Linked DNA regions of Homo sapiens. The protein of the gene in region 2 purifies or fractionates together with the protein of the main gene of each other region. This does not show direct contact. Each region holds a gene or a part of one and is shown on either strand. Other genes may lie near its edges.

What was found. The genes of interacting proteins can lie anywhere in the genome.
Region 1: the proteins of TGFB2 (region 2) and LRRC32 purify together in Homo sapiens (co-immunoprecipitation; one large-scale study listed by IntAct). This does not show direct contact.

The regions. Positions count from the first base shown.
Region 1 is NC_000011.10:76,660,560-76,665,359, forward strand, and holds part of LRRC32 (transforming growth factor beta activator LRRC32 isoform a precursor), read right to left. Parts: intron 3,308-4,800; exon of another isoform or gene 2,070-3,307; intron 950-2,069; coding exon 1-949.
Region 2 is NC_000001.11:218,430,440-218,435,835, forward strand, and holds part of TGFB2 (transforming growth factor beta-2 proprotein isoform 2 preproprotein), read left to right. Parts: intron 1-3,642; coding exon 3,643-3,775; intron 3,776-3,898; coding exon 3,899-4,009; intron 4,010-5,396.

The sequences.
Region 1 (4,800 bases), on a different chromosome or scaffold from region 2:
TCAGGAAGCACAGGGAGGTCAGGTGCTCAAGAAAGCTGTCGGGGATGAGCTCAATCTCATTGTAGCTCAAATCCAGATTCAAGAGCTGGGAAAGGGGGCGGCCGCTGGCATTCCCGCTGGGGGCTGAGAGGGGCAGGGCTGACCAGCCCTCGGAAGGTGCGTGGATGCCCTTGCTGTCCTGGGGTGGCCCTGTGGGGAGCCGGATGAGGTTGTTGGACAAGTTCAGGTAGATGAGTCTCGGGAGCGCGGCCAGGTCGGGGAAATGGAGCAGTTTGTTCTCCCGCAGGTCAAGCCAGGTGAGCTGGAACTCAGCCTGGGGCTGGGAGGCCGTCTGAAAGGCCTCGATGCTGTTGCAGCTCAGGTCTAGCACCCGCAGCTGCTGGAGGCTGAAGTCGGAGATGCAGGTGAGGGAATTCCTGGAGAGGTTGAGATGGGTCAGGCGGGGCAGACCCTCGAAGGCGCCATCCTCGATGTCCATCAGCACGTTGCTATGCAGGTCAAGCTGCTCCAGCGCAGGCATGTCCCGGAAGGTGTGGCGGGTGAGGCGAGTCAGACTGTTCTCCGCCAGTGAGAGGGTATGCAGGCTGGGTGCCTCCCCCAGCAGCCGCTCCAGCAGGCCGCTGTACAGGCTGTTCCCAGACAGGTCCAGGGAGGTCACGCGTGGCAGGGGGCCCAGGCCACCAGCACTCAGCGCAGTGGCCATCGCCAGCCGGTTGTGAGCCAGGCTGAGGTGCTCCAGGTGGGTCAGGGCCTGGAAGGCTCCTGGCTGGAGGAAGCTGATCTCATTGGTGCTCAGGTCCAGGTGACGAAGTGCTGTGTAGAAGCCCAGGGGTGAGGCCAGGATACTCCGCAGCTGGTTCCCAGATAGATCAAGGGTCTCAGTGTCTGGCGGGAGCACCGAGGGGACCTGGAGCAGGCCCAGAACCTGGCACGAGACCTTCTTGTCCACCTGGGGAGGGGTAGGGTGGGGAGACAGCTGGCATAAGTGGGCACGGTAGGGGATGAAACCAGACATGTTTATCCAGGAACCCTGCCTGGCTGGGGAACCCTTCTCCCATGGACTCCCAGAATGCTCAACTTTCCCCCACCGCAGCCTGATCACCCCATGCCTGGATGACCCATCCGGCTCCCTGCCCCATCTCGGGCACCCAGCGCAGTAATGGGCATTAAGGAAGGAACTCGATGAAGGTTCCATGGGTGGACAGATGGAGAGATGATAGACAGATAGAAGGACAAATAAACTAACAAAGAGAAACCCTGTACTTATTATTACCCCTCTTACAGGAAACAGCCATATATCCCACAGAGTGACCCCAAGCCAGTGAGCAGCAGGGCAGAGCTGGGACCCAGGGCTCCTGATTCTATGTCCTAGGTCCCTTCTATGGGCACAGATAGTTAAATTTCTGGTGGTAGATGGGAATTTCTCCACTTTGGGAGAAATGTTTCCAAAAGGGAAAACTGTAATTTGTGCTCTGTCATCAGTTTTTATCTTGGCCTCCCTGCCTCAGACCTCATTCAGGCTCTCGTGTCATGGGCAGAGCCTGGGTCCTGGGGCCTGCCTTCCTTGTGGATGCTTCCGAGATGTGGCTTCCTCTCTGTTGCTGTTACCTCCTAGGAGGTGGCTTTCTTCCCAGGCTGGGTCAGGGGACCGGGCCCCTGGAGGTGGGAAGGGCCAGGGAAAAGATGGCCAGAGCCAAATCCACAGTCTTTGGTGATGAGACTGTGTTTGTGCTGTGCGACCTCCAGGAAGTCACATAACCACTCTGTTTTCTTACGTTCTTCCCCAGCAGCCACTCAGCATTTGACATCTTGGTTAATACTTTCAGGCCCATGGTCCCATTGGTCTTTACCACAGCCTGCCCATCTGATACGATCACCCCTATTTACAGAAATCTAGGCTCAGGGAGGGGAAGGGAGGTGCCAGGATTGCCCAGCTGGTGAGGAGCAGAGCTGGGATTTGAACCCAGGTTTTTTAACAACAAAAGGCCGAACTCTTGTTCTTCCACAGATGTGCCTTCTGGGACCAAAATTCTTCCTGTGCAAATGCAGGTCTCCCTCTTCTCTTCCAGGCCTCCAGGAACCCCAGCCTTTCCCAGAAAAAGGTCTGACTTCCACAATCACCGGGCTCAGGCTCACCGCCCCCAGCTTCTGTCTCCGCCAACCCGTTCTGACCCACTCACTGCTAAATGCCTGACAACTGCTCAAAAGCTCTACTCTGACAATGAGGCAGCTTGGCTTAAACTTCTCCACGGTGAAGTCCAGGATCCCCAGCAGGGCCTTCGAGGCTGTTTGTAGCCCCTGCCAACCTGTCCCCCACCTCCCACCCCAGCCCACATGCAGTGACCACAGCTGACCACTGCCCATCATGCGCTCCCACACCCACTGCTGGGGCCTGCTCCCTGAGCTGGTTATGCCATCCCCAACCAGATCCACACATGAACTCTTCACACTGAGCTTCAGGGCCTCCTCCACCAGGGAGCCCTCCCTGACTGTGCTTCCTCTCAGAGCTTTGCCCCGCTGAATTGTGGCTGTGTGTGTGAGGACCTGCTAGACAGCGAGCTCAGAGCAAACAGGGACTGGTTTGGTGGATGTGCATGCCTTGGACCTGACTAGCAAGTCAATTTTTCCTAATGAATGAGTCCCAGACATCATCAGTTTAGTAAAGGTCTGAGGCACTGAATCAATCACTTCTCTAGGAGGAAAGAAAATGCATAATTGATATTTTCAAAATATAGTCAAAGACGGGTAGAGCAAGAAGAGTTCAGCTGACCCACTTCCCAGATGTGAACACTGAGGCCTGAAGATGGCAGTGACTTGCGTGAATTCACAGTGAGCCAGTGGCTGAGCTGGTAGGGAGGGAACACAAGCCGGTGTGTTCCTCCCCTGGTCCAGCTCTGCGCTTCCTCCTGAGAGCCCCAAGGTGAGTAGGGGGAGGAAGAGACCTGCCCAGCCTCAGGCCTCCGTGTGGCTCTTCTTACTCCATGCAGCACAGTGACTCCATGTAGCCTCCAAGGGAGGCAGCTTCACAGGGGCCTCAGGAGGCCCAGGGATGCCCCGTCAGTTGGGCACCTGTGTGAACCTGAAACCTGCCCAGCTGCCTTGCCCATCCTTGCCCTTCCTCCCTCACAACCTCTCTGTCTGCAGGGGCCACTAAACATAGCCTCCTCCTCACAGCCCTTACCCCCTGGGGCATTCCTTACTTAAAGCAGAAACAACAAAATGACCTGTGATGGAGCCCCAGCTGTGTCAGGCTGCGTGCTGAGTGCAGAGACCCCCTACCCCATTAAATCTTCCCAGGCATTGTTCACCCTGTTCCTATTGTACCCCTAACGAAACTGAGGCTAAGGGGAGTGGGCTGCCCAAGATCAGACAGTCAGGGGCTCAAAACTCCCATTTGCAAATTCCTTTTCCTATTGGTGCCAGCCAAGTTCTGACCACTGGGCCCTCAGCTGGTCAGCACAGCAAAGAGCATCATGGACCCACTTACTGACTGTTACAGTGTGGGGGGCACCGTGCTGTGCCCCGCGTGTTACCCCCGGGCAAGTGCAGAGGCATACTGCCTCTGGATAGGCAAAGGCTCCCTGGGGCACCAGCCCCTGAGACTTGATCCAGGACACAAAGTTTGCCAAGCCCACAGCCCAAGACTGGCTTTCCATTCAGGGGCCCAAGACCCCTGCTCTAGAAGCCTGGGGGCCTGATGGTGGGCAGGGCTGCACTGGGATGCCCAGATCTCCAGTCCAGTCCAGGAAGAAGCTTGAAGTCCAGGGCGGTGCTCAGAGCTCCACTTCCAGGGTCTTCATGCCTCCTTCAGCTCTGAGCTCCCAGCATTGCCTGACTTACCGTCGGAGGGAATTGGAGGAATTGGCCCTTGACCAGAGTTTAGAGCTCCCACCCACTGTCCTGGGCTATCAGGACACCCACTGCCCAGCTTCCTTTTCAGAAGCAAAGACTTGCCATCCAACTCCATTTCACCACCTGATCATGGGAGGAAAGCAGAGTAGGGAGAGGCACCAGGCAGTGAACAGTGGCAAAGGCAGCTGGGTTCGAATCCTGTAGGTCCCTGGTGGGTCACACATCTTCTCCTTACTTCCCGTGTGTATTATTCCCATGCTGGTTCAGAAAGTGCTTTCCTATCTCTTATCTCATTTCCCCAGACTCCAAAATTCACCCGCTTCCCCTCTGCCTGTTGGGTAGTCAAGGACTTTCCCCTCTGAGCCTCGTCTCCCTGAGGTAGAATGTGCGTTTGTATTTGGTGACATCTGAGGCCTTCTCTGCCCGCAATTCTGGGCTCCGGGAATCTTAGAAGGGCTCTGAAGAGCAAGAAAGGTGGTGGCAACAGGAGACATTGCACCCCCAGGGAAGGGCTGCGGGCAGGCAGCTGCCTGCACTTCCTGCCTCCTGAAGCAGCTGCCGGTTCTGTGTCATAAGCTTCTTCGAGTCTCAGGTCCAAGAGGGGCTTCCGGAGGCCCTGCCCTTTCCCCAGCCAGGCTCTGGCCTCAGTGACTGCCCGGCCTTACAAGTGGATCTAGGTGTTCTCTTTGCCCTGTATCTCATAGAGTCACAAGAACTTTAGGGCTAGTTTCCCTGGCTTGGGACAGGAAAAAGGAATAGAAGCAAATCAAACTTGGTCCTTGCCCTAGGGAAGTTCATGGTCTGGCAGGTGAGACAGGCTTGGACCCTTTCACCAACCACCCCACATGTTCAGTCTTCTCAGTATTGAGATAGGGGGAAGCCTGGGGACCGCAGGAACCCAGAGGAAGGTGTGATCAGACTAGGCCAGCCTGGGAGGGGCTGGGGAGG
Region 2 (5,396 bases):
AATCTAGAAAAACAATTAACAGCTACATATCCACAACTACTAACATTCAATACTCTTGTTGTTTGGAGACCTGAGAAAGACAGACAGCAAAGGCTAAAATAGAATGGGAAGTTGACTGATCTGGTCACTTCCTGTATAAACTTTTGAATGTAAGCAGCAGGTTGATTTTCCATGCCTTCTTCTCTTACAGTTCAATTTAGTGTGGGTGATAAATGGGAGATAAACAGAGGATAGTGAGGTTGTGCCTATTCTTAGGAAGAAGATACCTTTCAAGTTAAGATTCAAGACTTTACGATGTGATTAGAAGGTTTTCTAGATAGTTCTGAAGCAAAATCATGAAGCTGTAGGAGGAATACTTTTATATAGCATCATTCATCCTTGTTAGCAACCCAAATGATTAAAGGTTTGGGAAATTACACCTTTAAATATGGTCTAAAGGAACTGGGTTTATTTAGTTTAGAGAAAGCAAGCAAGCACGCTGAGGGGGACTTAATCATAGTCTCCAAGAATATGAGGGATATTCTCTGAGTGATGGAAAGCAGCTGTTTCCTGTTTCCACTAAGGACTGGATAAGAAGAATGGAGTTAACATGCAACAAGTGGGTTAAGAACTCTTTGGCCATGAAGTTCAAGACAACAAATCCACCAGACAAAAGTCGCTACTGTGTTTGAGAATTATGTAGCTAACTAACTGTATTTCTTGGGTGGTTTATATGTGGCCTGTTCATGAGTCTGGAGCTAGTGAAAAAGATCCAGAGGACCTTTCACCCAAGTGAGAGGATGAGATTGTCTGTTTTCTGAGCCTACCAGTGCTCTGTGGTTGAGGAAGCTCTTATCGTAGTTCTCCTAGTAGGATTTAAAAGAGAAAAAGCTTCAGAGTCTCTTTGCTGCTCTTTGGACTCTTTCCAAGTAAGATAATCTAAATGTACTCCTTTTCTATAAGGTGGAAGATTTATATAGATTTGGCATTATGTGTCTTTTCTGCTTATTTGGTCGATATGGCCATAATTTTTAAAAATTCTGTGTCTTTAGTGAAACTGGACATATATATACACACATATATACATGTATATGTATGTATATGTCATAGACATTTGACATGTATATCATAAGTAATTAATTCAGCAATGGAGACAATGTTTAGTTCTAGGTAGTATGTCTAAATGTTAGCTATGTGAATAAGATAATACACTGTGCTAATTAGCAGCACAGAAATATGCAAAGCATTTTGTAAAAATGCACTGTTGCAGATTAGCTAGGGGAAGAATTTAGAGACAAAACGATGAGTTCTGTGAATGTTACCAGTTTTTAGTCAATGAGGCAGATCAGAATGCCTGAAAACTGCTTCTCAACCATTGTTTTTCTTATTCCTGTTCCATAGTAGGTTAATTATACCATTTATTCAGAATTAGATAAGTGATGTCTTACTTTCCCAACTGGGAGTATTTTCAAGGCAAGGTTTGATTCCTAGGAGATGGACTGCTATTAAGCTGTATCTTTAAAGCTGTAGCTTTATGCCAACATTCATTGTGTATACGTTCCACTATCTTATATTTTCATCTTGTACCAGCATTTATTTTAATCTTATTTAAAAATCTTTGCCTCTGTCATTGAATGTTTTCTTGACTCAATAACTTGTTTGGCCTTTAAAAATCCAGCACTGAAGTGGGAAAATGACTCGGGATTGAGTTGGATCATCTCTTCACACTTGTTCACTGGGAGGCATTGGGCAAGTTAGTTAACCTCCTTGAGTTTGCTTCCTTAATCTACCCTACAGGAACATTTTGAGGATTAAATAAAATAAAATAATGCATGCCAAGCCCAGAGCGTAGTGTACCCAGCCCTCAAGTCATGTTTATCTGCTTTCTTTAATTCGCAAAGAACATTTCTTACCTATCATAGAGCCATTGTTGCCTCCACATTCTCTTCTTTTAGTGGAGGTTTTGGACCACAGGGGCAGATCTGTAGAATAAGTCTTGTGTAAAATTCATGAGGGCACCCAAGGGTCTAATTGTATGAATCTCCTTCCTTTTCTATATTTACTTAATCCAGAAAAAAGTCTACCATTATGGCAAGTATTTTAGGAAGCGTCTGTTGCCAAATTACCTGAAACAAATCATGTACACACATGGAAGGAAAGTACATTTTCAGATGAGTGGAAAGATGATGCATTTTTGTTTTACAAGGTTTAAAGGATAGTTAATAAATCTTCTAGATACTGAAATAAACATTTAATAGATATTGATTCAATTGAGTGCTATGGTTTGAAACGATATCAAATTGAAGACATGATCCCTGACCTGGGAAGTTTTATGAATTTGCTGGAGAGACCAAGCCCATAGGTATGGAATGACCACAAAACAGAGTAGTACAAAAATCCGGAAGAGTAGTACAAAAATGACAGCTTGAACCCCTAAGTACTGAGGAAAGGCAGCATACAGGGTTTCAGTAGGGATTTACTATAGTAGACTTAGAATCATGATTTAGTTCCTAAAACCACTATCATTTCAAAATAGAATTTTTTTAAAACCACCTAAAATATTCACTTCCTTTCGAAACCTAGGAACATACTACAGTTGCGCTTTACTCATTTGAGATAAATACACCTTTCTTGAAATGTTAACTTTTTCTTTATTTTTTTTGTTTTTGAGAGGCAATCCCACTCTGTCACCCAGGCTGGAGTGCAGTAATGCCACCTCGGCTCACTGCAACCTCCGTCTCCCGGGTTCGGGTGATTGTCCTGCTTCAGCCTCCCGAGTAGCTGGGATTACAGGCGCCCACCACTGTGCCTGGCTAATTTTTGTGTTTAGTAGAGACAGGGTTTTACCATGTTGGCCAGGCTGGTCTTGAACTCCTGACTTCAAGTGATCCGTCCAACTCAGCCTCCCAAAGTGCTGGGATTACGGTGAGCCACCACGCCCAGCCTGAGATAAATACATCTTCCTAAAGCCTCAGTGTTTAGGCTGGTTTGCTTTCAGATATTCATCTATGCACCATACCAAACTACTTCTGCTGAGATTCATTCTGAGTCTGCAGGGGATGGAATACCTTTATAAATCATAACAAATCACATTAAGAGTAAAATATCCCAGCTAGGGACTTACCTCAAAAGCTGAGGCATGACACATATTTTAATGGCAATGGATTTGGAAACCAAGGTTAGGACCGTTCTTTCTTTATTAGAAGGAGATTTATAATTCAGGGCCTTTGAGAGTGAGCCTGGGTCCTCTGAACTGGACTTCTCCTCTTGTCCCTTCCTGTACCCCAACTCCCCAAATTAAATAAGTAGGGAAGCAGAACAAGAAAACCATTAACTTAATAGCATAGAATTTATGGCTGAAATCTTGCAAAGCTTATGTCAGCAAAGTAAAATAATTACTGTCACTTTCTTTTAGACACTTGGCTTTATGGTTCCTGTCACCTTTATCATAACATGCAGCTGATTTAGTAGCTATTTTTTCATGGCAAATAGCCTGGTGTTGTGTTTTTATGCATGTGACCATGCAATTGAGATGACAATGCATGGCTATACTACAGTAGAGCTAAATTTAGGTAATGAATTAGAACACTGTTAATAGTTTTGGTTTAGTCATGCTGTCAGAATGCCAACTCAGCCTTTTCTCTTGCTCTTTTTCCCCTCCAGATTCTCAAGTCCAAAGATTTAACATCTCCAACCCAGCGCTACATCGACAGCAAAGTTGTGAAAACAAGAGCAGAAGGCGAATGGCTCTCCTTCGATGTAACTGATGCTGTTCATGAATGGCTTCACCATAAAGGTTACAAGCCACTCTCTCTTTTCCTCCCAAGATGTTCAGTATCCCTAAGTTACTTTAAATTGATTGCAGATTTAAGGGTATAGACACACATACAAATGACCTCCTTGACTTAATGTTTTCCAGACAGGAACCTGGGATTTAAAATAAGCTTACACTGTCCCTGCTGCACTTTTGTACCATCTAATAATTACATCATCCCAAATAAAAGTGAAGAACTAGAAGCAAGATTTGCAGGTAACCAAAACTTGGTCATATGAGGTGGGGGAGGGAAGGGTCTATATTGATAATCTCATGGGGGATAAAATCAGTTTGCATGTGAAAATGAGACTGGTAAGGCCTGGGGAGTTTCATTCATTTGGACAGTGATATGGTTGGATATACATATGTGAAGGGAGAAAGGATTGGAAGAACGGAATAGGTTCCCAGTTTATAATTCTCAATGCCCAGTGATGACTTGGTCAATAATAACTGATTAACTCATTAACCCTCCAGTAGTAAGTTAAGGCCTTTGTTCTTCATTGTAGCAAACCAACTTTCCATCTATACTGATATTATAGAGAAAGATAGAATGTGTTTAAGAAAATTCATTGATAATCCCCCAAACCAAATGTCAGGAACTGACAACCGTATTTCACAGAAGAAAGGAGTCTCCTCCTGCTACAGCTTCCATAACTAACCTTCCATGTATAAGAACATTCCACCTTTTCTAGTCCATACCCAGTATTTCAAGTGGGTTCCTTATCAGAATTTTATATTAGTTTATAAACACATAAAAATGTTTTGGCTTTCCCCACGCTTACCTTTAAGTAAGTTGGACAAAAGTCATGGAGAGTGAGGCGATACCAAGGGCTCAAGTCACTTCATGTATTAGATGATGAGTTGTTGGATGATGAGAGGTGAGAGGAAATCCATGCCTATGTGCCGATACAGCATCTGCCCACAATGCCAGGCCAGAGAATTGATTTCCCTGCCCTCCTAACATCACCCAGGACCTCCATCCACTTTTAGAAGACTACAGCAGCCCTTGCTCATGGAAAAATACTCCCAGAGGTCTAGAGATTTATTTCAGTCTCTAACCTAGTCATGATTCTCTGGAGTGTGGAGATTAAATGCTTAAACTGGCAGTCTCTTGAGCATGCTTTGGGGAGCTCAAGTTTCTAAATCTCAGATGGAATCAGGAAAGTGTTGAGGATGCCATAAAATAAATGAAAAAGCCCTTTCTTCACAGCTTCCCAAAATAGCATTAGGTAAGGGTGACTTCTGTTTCACTTGAACCTAATTCACTCCAATTCAGTTAAGTCTCAGTTTATGTTCATTAGGAAAGTCTTTTGAGTTTAGTAGTCTTAGGAAGAGTGTGAACCAGCGGGTGACAAGGCATGTTCTATTGCCATGTGTTCAGTTGTTGAGGGCTTGAACGCAGCCTAAACTGAGGATTGACTAAAATAAACTGCCTAGATTGCCCTTGGACTATAGGTCAAAGACTGCTTCTGTAGTGACTTTCATAACCAACAGCCCTGGCTTTGACACCGAACTGCCTTCTGACAAGAGCCCCATTTAGAAGTGTTAATTGTCACGTGGGTTAGTCGTAGTCCTGTTGTGCCATATCTATTTCCATGGGGAA